Regions from separate parts of the Homo sapiens genome. Here region 2 is linked to region 1. The links come from fine-mapping of genetic effects on gene expression. A gene starts in region 1. The other region holds a variant in brackets. All regions are shown on one strand. Distances are from middle to middle. Region 1 holds the start of ENPEP (glutamyl aminopeptidase). Region 2 holds the start of LOC124900892 (small nucleolar RNA U2-19).

The links. PIP is the estimated chance that this variant, and not a neighbour inherited with it, causes the effect.
Region 2: its variant is fine-mapped to the expression of ENPEP in esophagus muscle (GTEx, PIP 0.92).

Annotation. Positions count from the first base shown.
Region 1 is chr4:110,473,404-110,478,788 of GRCh38, forward strand. ENPEP (glutamyl aminopeptidase) reads left to right here and starts at 2,752. Exons shown (of 20, transcript NM_001977.4): 1 at 2,752-3,655. The coding sequence starts at 3,012. RefSeq lists an enhancer at 1-48.
Region 2 is chr4:110,431,749-110,437,133 of GRCh38, forward strand. LOC124900892 (small nucleolar RNA U2-19) reads right to left here and starts at 1,440; the gene lies at 1,361-1,440. The variant G/A (reference allele first, on the strand shown) is at 2,889.

The sequences.
Region 1 (5,385 bases):
GGAGCAGATACTGGAATTTTAGTACTCAAAGTAGATCACGATAATGTATGTATCAAAAGGGATGGAGATTGTCATATAGAACCTACAGTAAACTGTTGTTCTTTCACTCCACTGGCTTGGACCTGATAAGTGGAAATTGACCAGCAGTAGTCGTTTGAAATTATTTATATCCAATGTAGATTCATTCAACGTAAGATTACCCAATATGGTCTATTTAATCTAGGAGGGTGCCTGTGATGGTGCACATGCTGGCCCTTCTACCTCTGCTCATCTGGCTGTATTAGGTCACCCTAATATGCTGATCCTCACAAGATGTGGTGCCCTTCATTGGATGCAGTCAGCTCACACAGGTTGGTACTAATAAGATACTGTGGCTAGAACTGGGCTGTGGACTCAAAACCTACACACACACACACCCCATATGTGGACTTAGGGTATTTTATTTCTTCTGGCAAAAAAAAATGCATTTAAATAGTATATTCATTATGGTAGAATTTCAGGCAGAGTAGTAGAGCTTTTTCATAGCAGGTGGCCATTCTTAATCTTCCTTAAGTGTACCCAACCCAAAGGTCTATTATCTTCTCTGTACATAAGACCTGGTGATAAGATTGTTGTCTTTGTAAATAAGGGCAAGTTTAAGAGATTTCATATATGTTTGCCACAAGGTCAAGTTTAAGAGATTTCAAATGTTTGCCACATCTGAGATTTTAAAAAATACTTCCAGTTTAACATAATTTTATGTACATTCTTCCAAATACTTTTTGCTTTTCCTTTCACTATGTTTAGGTAAATTTGAGCCACATTTTTGCCTTTCATTCCTAAGAAACATATCAAAATATTTGACCCATCAAACATTTATTGAAATGTCAGATGATCTTTTCAATAAAAAGAGGGTTTCAAGGGCTAAAATTCAGGAAGTTAATGTGCCAAACTTAAACATACTGTGATCTCAAGAAGTTTAGGGTTGCTTCAGAATGTAAAATTAATCAATACAAGATGGGCCTACAATTTAGAAAAACATATCCCTTTTTCCTTTAATTCTTTTTCTGTTACTACTATTTTGTGAGAAAAACAGCAGAAATGTTACAGAGTAAAATGGACCCGTTTGCTTTTAAAGTTTTGTTTTTTGTTTGTTTGTTTAGTTTGTAATTTAGAACCGTTTGAAACAACGTTTCTCAGAGTGTGCTCTGTGGAACAGAGGGCCCTCAAAAGGTACCTCACCAGAAAAAGCTGTCTTGTCAACTAAATGGGGAAAGTACTCCGTCGTGTTTCCTCTCTGAGAGGCTCACAATGTGTGTCACCATCTGGAGGCTCTGCAAGAATGGAGAGTAGTAAAAGAAGATTTTTCACTTTAACCCAGCATTGTTTGCTTGGCAAGTAGATCTGTTAATATCCATGGATTGTATCTGGGGAAATACCAAGTTTTTCATAGTTACTTAACCCTTGAATATTTATCCTCCTCAGAGCATGGAAGCAAGCAGTAGAATGCGATCGTTGATATATGGACTTTAATTTTTTTAATTTTATTTATTTATTTATTTATTTTGAGATGGAGTCTTGCTCTGTCACACAGGCTGGAGTACAATGGCACGGTCTCTGCTCACTGCAACCTCCGCCTCCCAGCTTCAAGCAATTCTCCTGCCTCAGCCTCCTGAGTAGCTGGGATTACAGATGTGTTCCACCACGCCTGGCTAATTTTTGTATCTTTAGGAGAGACAGGGTTTCACCACGTTGGCCAGGCTGGTCTCAAACTCCCGACCGCAGGTGATCCACCTGCCTCAGCCTCCCAAAGTGTTGAGATTACAGGCGTGAGCCACCACACCTGGCCAGATATATGGACTTTAGACTCAGACAACGTGGGTTCAAACCCCAGTTCTGCTATTTGCCAGGTGTGTGACCTTGAGCAATAGCTTAACCTCTCTAAATGTCAGTCCATAGCTAAGCTGCCAGTAAATATGAAGTTCATTGAGATTTTTCTTCCTGAGCTTGTCATTCAGAAACAAAATGATAGATTTGCATGGATGATGGATTTCCCAACAGGTCAATTTTCACATCTGGAATCTACTTTAAACGTGCTCTACCACATCAAAGTCTAAGGAAGTCAATCTCACTTGGAGGCACACTGCAGAGACAAGTAGGCCTTCTTCCTTGTCCCTCTGTCCTTTCAGACTTCTCCCCCTCTTGTTCCCTCTCTCTTCTTAAGCTTTCCAGCTCCACTACTGCTTTGGCTAATTTCTTTGGGTTCCCCCTCTCTCATTCACCCAGCACCAGCTGAACTGATTTAGGTTTACCTGGCTATGCTTTCCAAATCTAATTCGACAAATATTTACTGAGTACCTAGGTGGTCCTTGAATCACCCTGAGCACCCAATTCCAGGATATGACTTCTTCAAAGGACAGAATTGGAATGTTTACATAATATGAGGGAAAAAAAATAAAAGAAAACACTTAGCTTCTTTAGCAAGCTATCTGATAAAATAGCTGAAATTCAAGAAGCCCTTTAGTTAGGAGGGAGAGATTGCGAACACAACAGGAAGAAGCCCCAGGCTGAGTGGCAAAGGTTGAGATTTTCTATCGTAAGCACACCTCACCCAAACGCTTGCTCCCTGAAAGCTGCTGACGGAGCTTTGGCGAGGGCTCATCCTCCCGTTGGCTGATAAGCGAAGCCCTGTTTTATATTTAACTCGCTGCAGTGCAGGAGGGGTAGGGGTGGAGATGCGTCGTTTATAAGGGGAGCTGTGACAATCTTCTTGCCAGCCCTCTTCCTCCCACTCGGCTCCTCTTACGGAGTCCTCATTCCACCCCCCTTGTTTCCGCATTCATCCTGAGTGGCTGGTGGGAACGTGAAAAGGGAGAGGAAAAGGCGCAAGAAGCCAGAGAGAGGGGTGTGGGAAAAGCGAAAACAGGCTGCCAAATCAGGGGATTCCTTCCAATTTAAAAAGGAAGTCTGCTGACGTTAGTTAGTTAAATTTAACATCTTTTTATGTGTAACACTTGACTTTGGAAGCAAAAATGAACTTTGCGGAGAGAGAGGGCTCTAAGAGATACTGCATTCAAACGAAACATGTGGCCATTCTCTGTGCGGTGGTGGTGGGTGTAGGATTAATAGTGGGACTTGCCGTGGGCTTGACCAGATCGTGTGACTCCAGCGGGGACGGCGGGCCGGGCACTGCGCCAGCTCCTTCCCACCTGCCTTCTTCCACGGCCAGCCCCTCAGGTCCTCCTGCCCAGGACCAGGACATCTGCCCGGCCAGTGAGGATGAGAGCGGACAGTGGAAAAACTTTCGACTGCCGGACTTCGTCAACCCAGTCCACTACGACCTGCACGTGAAGCCCCTGTTGGAGGAGGACACCTACACGGGCACCGTGAGCATCTCCATCAACCTGAGCGCTCCCACCCGGTACCTGTGGCTGCACCTCCGGGAGACCAGGATCACCCGGCTCCCGGAGCTGAAGAGGCCCTCTGGGGACCAGGTGCAAGTCCGGAGGTGTTTCGAGTACAAAAAGCAGGAGTACGTGGTGGTCGAGGCGGAGGAAGAGCTTACCCCCAGCAGTGGAGATGGCCTGTATCTCCTGACCATGGAGTTCGCCGGCTGGCTGAACGGCTCCCTCGTGGGATTTTATAGAACCACCTACACGGAGAACGGACAAGTCAAGTAAATATTAATTTTTGCTTTACCTCCCTTAAGCTCACATATCTGCTTTCCATTTCTTTTCCTTTCCTTTTCACTTTCCGCTTTTAATTATTTTGTTGGTCTGATATTGATCGGCTCTTGGTTTCAATTCTGGCTGTCCATCTGGGAAGCCAAAATTGTTGCCCTATTGTATTTCCAAACCCTGTCATAAAACTTGAAAGTAGTGAATGAGCTTCGTAGAGTCAAAAGTCAGTGTAAGTCTTTTATTCCATCAGGAGAAATCATAATATACTGCACCCTATCTTGAAGATTTCCATAAATTATCTCAGGTTTGAGAACTGCCTTTGGTAAATTTCACTAGTGATATTCCCAGGCTATGTAGCAATATATATACAGCAATATATATGAACTTTTAAAGTGGTATTACACTAAATTTACGTGAAACATCAGTAAATTTCAGTTATTATTTTGTCCATTTTTTTTTTGTCCAATGTCTCTTTTTTGGAGAAGAGAGACATTGAAAAATCACATGTGATCCACAGAATTGTCTTTGTGTCTTCATCTGGAAAGGAAGACAGGACTGTGTTTTTTTCTGTCTCCGATGGCCAGGACCATGCTTTACACATAGGCTTTCAGGAAATATTCATTGAGTCCACACATCAGTGGCATAGGTAAATTTGGAGGCTTGTTGCTCATGATACAATGTGCAAACATAATGCTAAGCCTTTTACAACATAAAAGATATATTAAGTAGTTAAATACATACAAATATTTGTATACAAATATCTATCTAGATAGATAGGTATTTATTCCACTTTCCCACCTATTTGTCTAGCCTTTGTATTGATCAGTGGCTACTACCAGAGCTATGTTAAAGGCATAAACTCTCTCATTGAACTCCAAAAACTTCCTTCACACTGTGGATGTAGCCCTTGCATCAGGGAGGAAGGCTACACTACACCTTGTGTTGTGTCTGGACTGCTTTGACCTTTGCTGGCTTAGATTCTGAAGAGGTAAATGATTAAGAAAGCTTCTTGTCACAGTTTAGAGATGTGAGTCTTGGGCCAGTCCACCCACAAATATCCCTTTTTTTCTGTTGTTTTAAGCATCTTACAGAGCAAGCAAATTTTTTGGTCAAAATTCTTTCTATTGTTTGTCAGACAGACCCACGGACTAAAACAAAACATTTAAATATTCCTATATTCCTGTGTGGTAAACTGATAAATTGAGTAGAAGTGATAGTTTGAAGAAAATATCTGTAGGGGTCATGCTTATATAGATCTTATATCTTAATACTGCTAGCAAAAAAACACTCTTACCATTTACGTATTTTTTCTGTTCATAAGAATTACATCATTGAAAGCATAAAAATTATCAAAAAGGATAATCAAAATAATCTGTAAAATAATTTCACTGCCCAGTGGTAATCCCTGCTAGCATATTAATGTATATTCTAATGTTTTTCTAGGCAATCAAACCTTTAATTGCATTATATCTGTCTATCTATATGCCTTTTTTACTTAATGTCTTGAGAAGTTCCCCTTATTCTTACATGTTTTCAAGAATCTGTTTTTTGTTCTTTATTGAGACAGGGTCTTGCTATGTTGCCCAGGCTGGTCTTGAACTCCTGGACTCAAGCAATCCTCCTGCCACCACTTCCCAAAGTGCTGGGATTATAGGCATGAGCCACTGCACACAGCCAAGAATCTGATTTTAAAGATGTGAAATATTCCATTGTTTGAATACATTGT
Region 2 (5,385 bases), 42 kb before region 1:
CTGAAGCTGCGCCCATAGCTGCCCCTACCCCCAGCTGCTCTGTCCCAGGGAGATGAGAGTTTTATCTATAAACCCCTGACTGGGGCTGCTGCCTTTCTTTCAGAGATGCCCTGCCCTGAGAGGAGGAATCTAGAGAGGCAGTCTGGCTACAGTGGCTTTGCTGAGCTGCGGTGGGCTCTGCCCAGTTCAAGCTTCCTAGTGGCTTTGTTTACACTGTGAGGGGAAAACCCCCTACTGAAGCCTCAGTAATGGTAAACGCCCCTCCCCCCACCAAGCTTGAGCATCCTAGGTCAACTTCAGACTGCTGTGCTGGCAGTAAGAATTTCAAGCCAGTGGATCTTAGCTTGCTGGGCTCCATGGGGGTGGGATCCTCTGAGCTAGACCATTTGGCTCCCTGGCTTCAGCCCCCTTTCCATGGGAGTGAATGGTTCTGTCTCACTGGCATTCCAGGTGCCACTGGGGTATAAAAAAAAACTCCTGAGCTAGCTCGGTGTCTGCCCAAATGGACACCCAGTTTTGTGCTTGAAACCTAGGGCCCTGGTGGCATAGGCACCTGAGGGAATCTCCTGGTTTGTGGGTTGTGAAGACTGTGGGAAAACCATAGTATCTGGGCTGGAATGCACCGTTCCTCATGGCACAGTCCCTTACTGCTTCCCTTGGCTAGGGGAGGGAGTTCCCTGACCTCTTGTGCTTCCTGGGTGAGGCAATGCCCCACCATGCTTCGGCTCACCCTCCATGTGCTGCATCCACTGTATAACCAGTCCCAGTGAGATGAGCCGGGTACCTCAGTTGGAAATGCAGAAATCACCTGCCTTCTGCTTTGATCTTGCTGGGAGGTGCAGACTGGAGCTGTTCCTATTTGGCCATCTTGCCAGCCACCTAGACATCTTTTTCTTAATTAGAAATGTTATTTTCTATTCAATCTTTCTTTTACTCTACCACAAAGCAATAAGGTTTCTTTTTTGAAATAAATAATATTTGAAAAAAATATGTTTGATATGATCATGTTCATGTAGAAATGTGTATTTAAGTCTGCATTTTAAAATTAAATAATTTTTAAGAAAAGATTAGGCCTTAGAAGCGGGCACACAAAGTTGAAGATAGTGGTCTGTGAGTGAGGTTCTGAGTGTTTTCTATTTTCTGCCTTTTGCTTGTCTATGGTTCCTTTTTATTTTCCCACTAATGAACATATTTTGTTCCTGTAAAATGAAAAACACAACAGCAATATGTGAATGTGCCTACCATGCAAATATGTATAAAGTTTATGCTTTTGTAAGAGTTGCTTTTAAGGATAAATAGAGGAAATCACAAATAGAGGTCAGGGAAAATATATCTTCTTACACTGTTTTATAGTTTTGCTTCTTAAAACTGTAGAGCTCATGCATCAAGTAGACTGGAAGGTCTTCTGATACTCAAATTTGGGTATTTTCATCCTTGATCCACTTCAATAAGAGCAGATCTCAGAGAACAAATAAACTTTTCTATTCCAACATTCTCCTTCCTGCAATACTAGTCCACTGTGTTTCTTGCCTGCCAGTCTTCTCAGCTAGGTTTCTTTTTCATGAGCAAATGAGTATAGGTGGCTTTCCTTTTTCTTAATTAGCAATTTTATTTTGTATTCAATCTTTCTTTTACTCTACCACAAAAGAATAAGATTTCTCTTTTGAAATAAATAATGTTCTTTGCCTCATCTATTAACTGGATGTGATACATTTATTTCATGAAGTTATCTTGGGTCCTTCAGGGAAGCCACCTTTATTCAGAACAATCTGAATTATATGCATTGATAAACCAATCAGTTGTGATTCATCCAAGGCGATAGAATTTACAAGGGCTTCAAGGTGGCTGTCACACTAAACTCTGGGCAATGTTAATGTTGGGCTAACTGAAAATTATAACTAGGACATTTCTTGAACTTATTTTCCATTAGCACAGGCAGGTAAAATTGGTTCTCTTCATTTTATAAACGTCATTCTTCAAAAAGAATCTGGTAGTACAAGATGACTTGCTTGCTTTCTGAATATTTTAATTCTGGATTGTTATATGTTTTGCTGGTAAGTTATTTAAGTTATTTTAATTGATCATATTGTTTTTAAAAATGAGATTTTAAAAATATTTTTATTTTTTCTTAATTTGGGGGGAACATGCACAGGTTTGTTTCAAGGGTATATTGTGTGATGCTGAGGTTTGAGCTTCTATTTATCTGATCACCCAGATAGTGAACCAAGTGCCAAATAGAAAGTTTTTAAAGCCTTGCCCCTCTCCCTCTCTCCTTTTAGAGTTCCCAGTGTCTATTGTTCCCATTTTTATGCATGTGTATAACCAAGATTTAGCACTCACTTATAAGTGAGAACATGTGATATTTGATTTTCTATTTCTGTATTAATTCGCTTAGGATAATGGCTTGTAGGTGCATCTGTGTTGCTGCAAAGGACATAATCTCATTCTTTTTTTTTTTTTTTGAGATGGATTCTGACTCTGTCGCCCAGGCTGGAGTGCAGTGGCGCTATCTCAGCTCACTGCAGGCTCTGCCTCCCGGGTTCACACCATTCTCCTGCCTCAGCCTCCCGAGTAGCTGGGACTACAGGTGCCCACCACCACGCCTGGCTAATTTTTTGTATTTTTAGTAGAGACGGGGTTTCACCATGTTAGCCAGGATGGTCTCGATCTCCTGATCTTGTGATCCACCCACCTTGGCCTCCCAAAGTGCTGGGATTACAGGCGTGAGCCACCATGCCTGGCCGATCTCATTCCTTTTTTATGGCTGCATAGTATTCCATGGTGTATAAATACCACATTTTCTTTATCCAGTCCACTGTTGATGGGCACCTACGTTGATTCTCTGTCTTTGCTGTTGTGAACAGTGCTGTAACGAACATACAGTGCAC[G/A]TGTCTTTTTGGTGGAATGATTTATATTCTGTTGGGTATGTAACTATAATGGGATTACTGGATTAAATGGTAGTTCTATTTTTAGTTCTTTGAGAAATCTTCAAACTGCCTTCCACAGTGGCTGAACTAATTTACACTCCCACCAGCAGTGTATAGGCATTCCCTTTTCTCCATAGCCTTGCCAACATCTGTTAGTTTTTGACTTTTTAGTAATAGCCATTCTGACTGATGTGAGATGGTATCTCATTGTGGTTTTAATTTGCACCTCTCTGCTAATTAGTGATGTTGAGCATTTTTTCATGTTAGTTGGCTGCTTATATGTCTTCTTTTAAGAAGTGTCTTTTCATGTCCTTTGCCCACTTTTTAAATGAGGTTCTTTGTTTTTTTCTCATTGAGTTTAAGTTCCTTGTAGATTCTGGATATTAGACCTTTGTTGTTTGCATAGTTTGCAAATATTTTCTCCCATTCTGTTGGTAGTCTGTTTACTCTGTTGATAGTTTCTTTTGCTGTGCAGAAGCTCTTTAGTTGAATTAGTTCCCGCTTGTCAAATTTTGTTTTTGTTGTAACTACTTTTGGAGACTTTGTCATGAAATCTTTGCTAAGGCCTATGTCTAGAAAGGTATTTCTTAGATTTTTTTTCCTAGGGTTTTTATAGTTTTAGGTCTTACATTTAAGTCTTTATTCCATTTTTGAGTTGATTTTTGTATATTATGAAAGAAGGGGTTCAGTTTCAATCTTCCGCCATCTTCTGTATATGGCTAGCCACTTATCCCAAAACCATTTATTGAATAGGGACTTCTTTCTCTATTGCATGTTATCTTTGACTTTGTTGAATGTCAGAGGGTTGTAGGTGTGCAGCTTTATTTCTGGGTTCTCTAGGTCTATGTGTCTGTTTTTGTACCAGTACCATGCTGTTTTGGCTACTGTAGCCTTGTAGTATAGTTTGAAATCAGGTAGTGTGATGCCTCTGTTCTTTTTGCTTAGGATTGCTTTGGCTATTTAGGCTCTTTTTTGGTTCCATTTGAATGTTAGAATAGTTTTTTTCTAATTCTGTGCAAAATGACAGTGGTAGTTTGATAGTAATAGCATTGAATCTGTAAATTGGTTTGGGCAGTATGGCCAATATAACAATATTGATTCTTCTTATCCATGAGCATGGAATTTTTTTATTTGTTTGTGTCATTTCTGATTTCTTTCAGCAGTGTTTTGTAATTCTTACTGCAGATAATTTACTTCCCCAGTTAGCTATATTCCTAGGTATTTTAATCTTTTTGTGGGATTACCAATTTTCTAGCAAAATGTTAAATATTAACTCATGAACATTAATCCTTTTGGAATGAGATTTTTTCTAAAATATATTACTAAATATTTTACATTTTCCTACCACTATATTTTTTGATAATTTTGTCTATTTCCTTTTTAAATCAAATATATAAATTAACTTTATTGTTAAATATAGAAAATAATTTATCAAATGACTATAATGTTTATAAGCACACAAGTAATTATGTTCTCTGAAACATTCTGCATACTTTGTAATGAACAATAACTCTTTAAAAAGTATTTCAGGTGATTGTATTTAGAATCAAAGTCTTCAGCATTTACATAAGGTCAAGGAGAAGTAGTTATTGGACATGTTCCAAAGGAGCTAAACAGATTTTAGTGGGTGACTAAACTATAACTGGTAATTTATATTGCTTGGTCTTTTATGATACAATGTCCTTTCCATTTTGAGTTCTTAAATCCACTTCACCCCAAATTTTAGATATTAAAAAAATTATTTCTACCATTGCCATTTCACCTGCCATAAAAAATGCTCATTCTTAGCAATAGTTAAGTATATAATATCTAAATAATTGAAAAAAAAGACTCAAATATTTTAATTGAATTCATTGGCTATAGGTAGTCCATTCAGTGGTATAATTGAGAGGAACTCAGGATTTATTGCTCTTGGTGGGTAGGAAAAACTGAAAAATGTGGCTAATATTGGGTTTCAAATGGCCCTTGAAATTTCTTGTGATTATCCACAAAAGCATACACTAAGTTGACGTACACTAAGGTAACATGGTAGAACGTTAAGGCAATGCTTTGTGAGTTGGTGTATCTGTTTGATTCTCATTTTTCCATATCCTCATGTATAAAATGAGACAATAATAGTGATCTATCAAGATTACTGGAAGGTGGTAAATAATGCATAGGAAACTGCCTGCCACATGACTCACAATTAGTATTAGCCCCTTCCCCTTGAATGATAAATATCAGTGGAATATCTACTGACTTTTTAATATGATGGAATTATTTTTCATTCATTCTCCAAATATTTATTGAACAAGTCAGTCAGGGATTAGGCATGAAAGCAGAAGCCTCTCAATATATTCCAAGTATGAATATTTTCAATGCAGGGAATTAGAGGCTTACCCAATGGTTAGAAGGCTGCAGAAACCAAGGTGAAGAAGGCTGTCAGCAACAATCTCAGCCTTTGCACTATGAGGTTCTC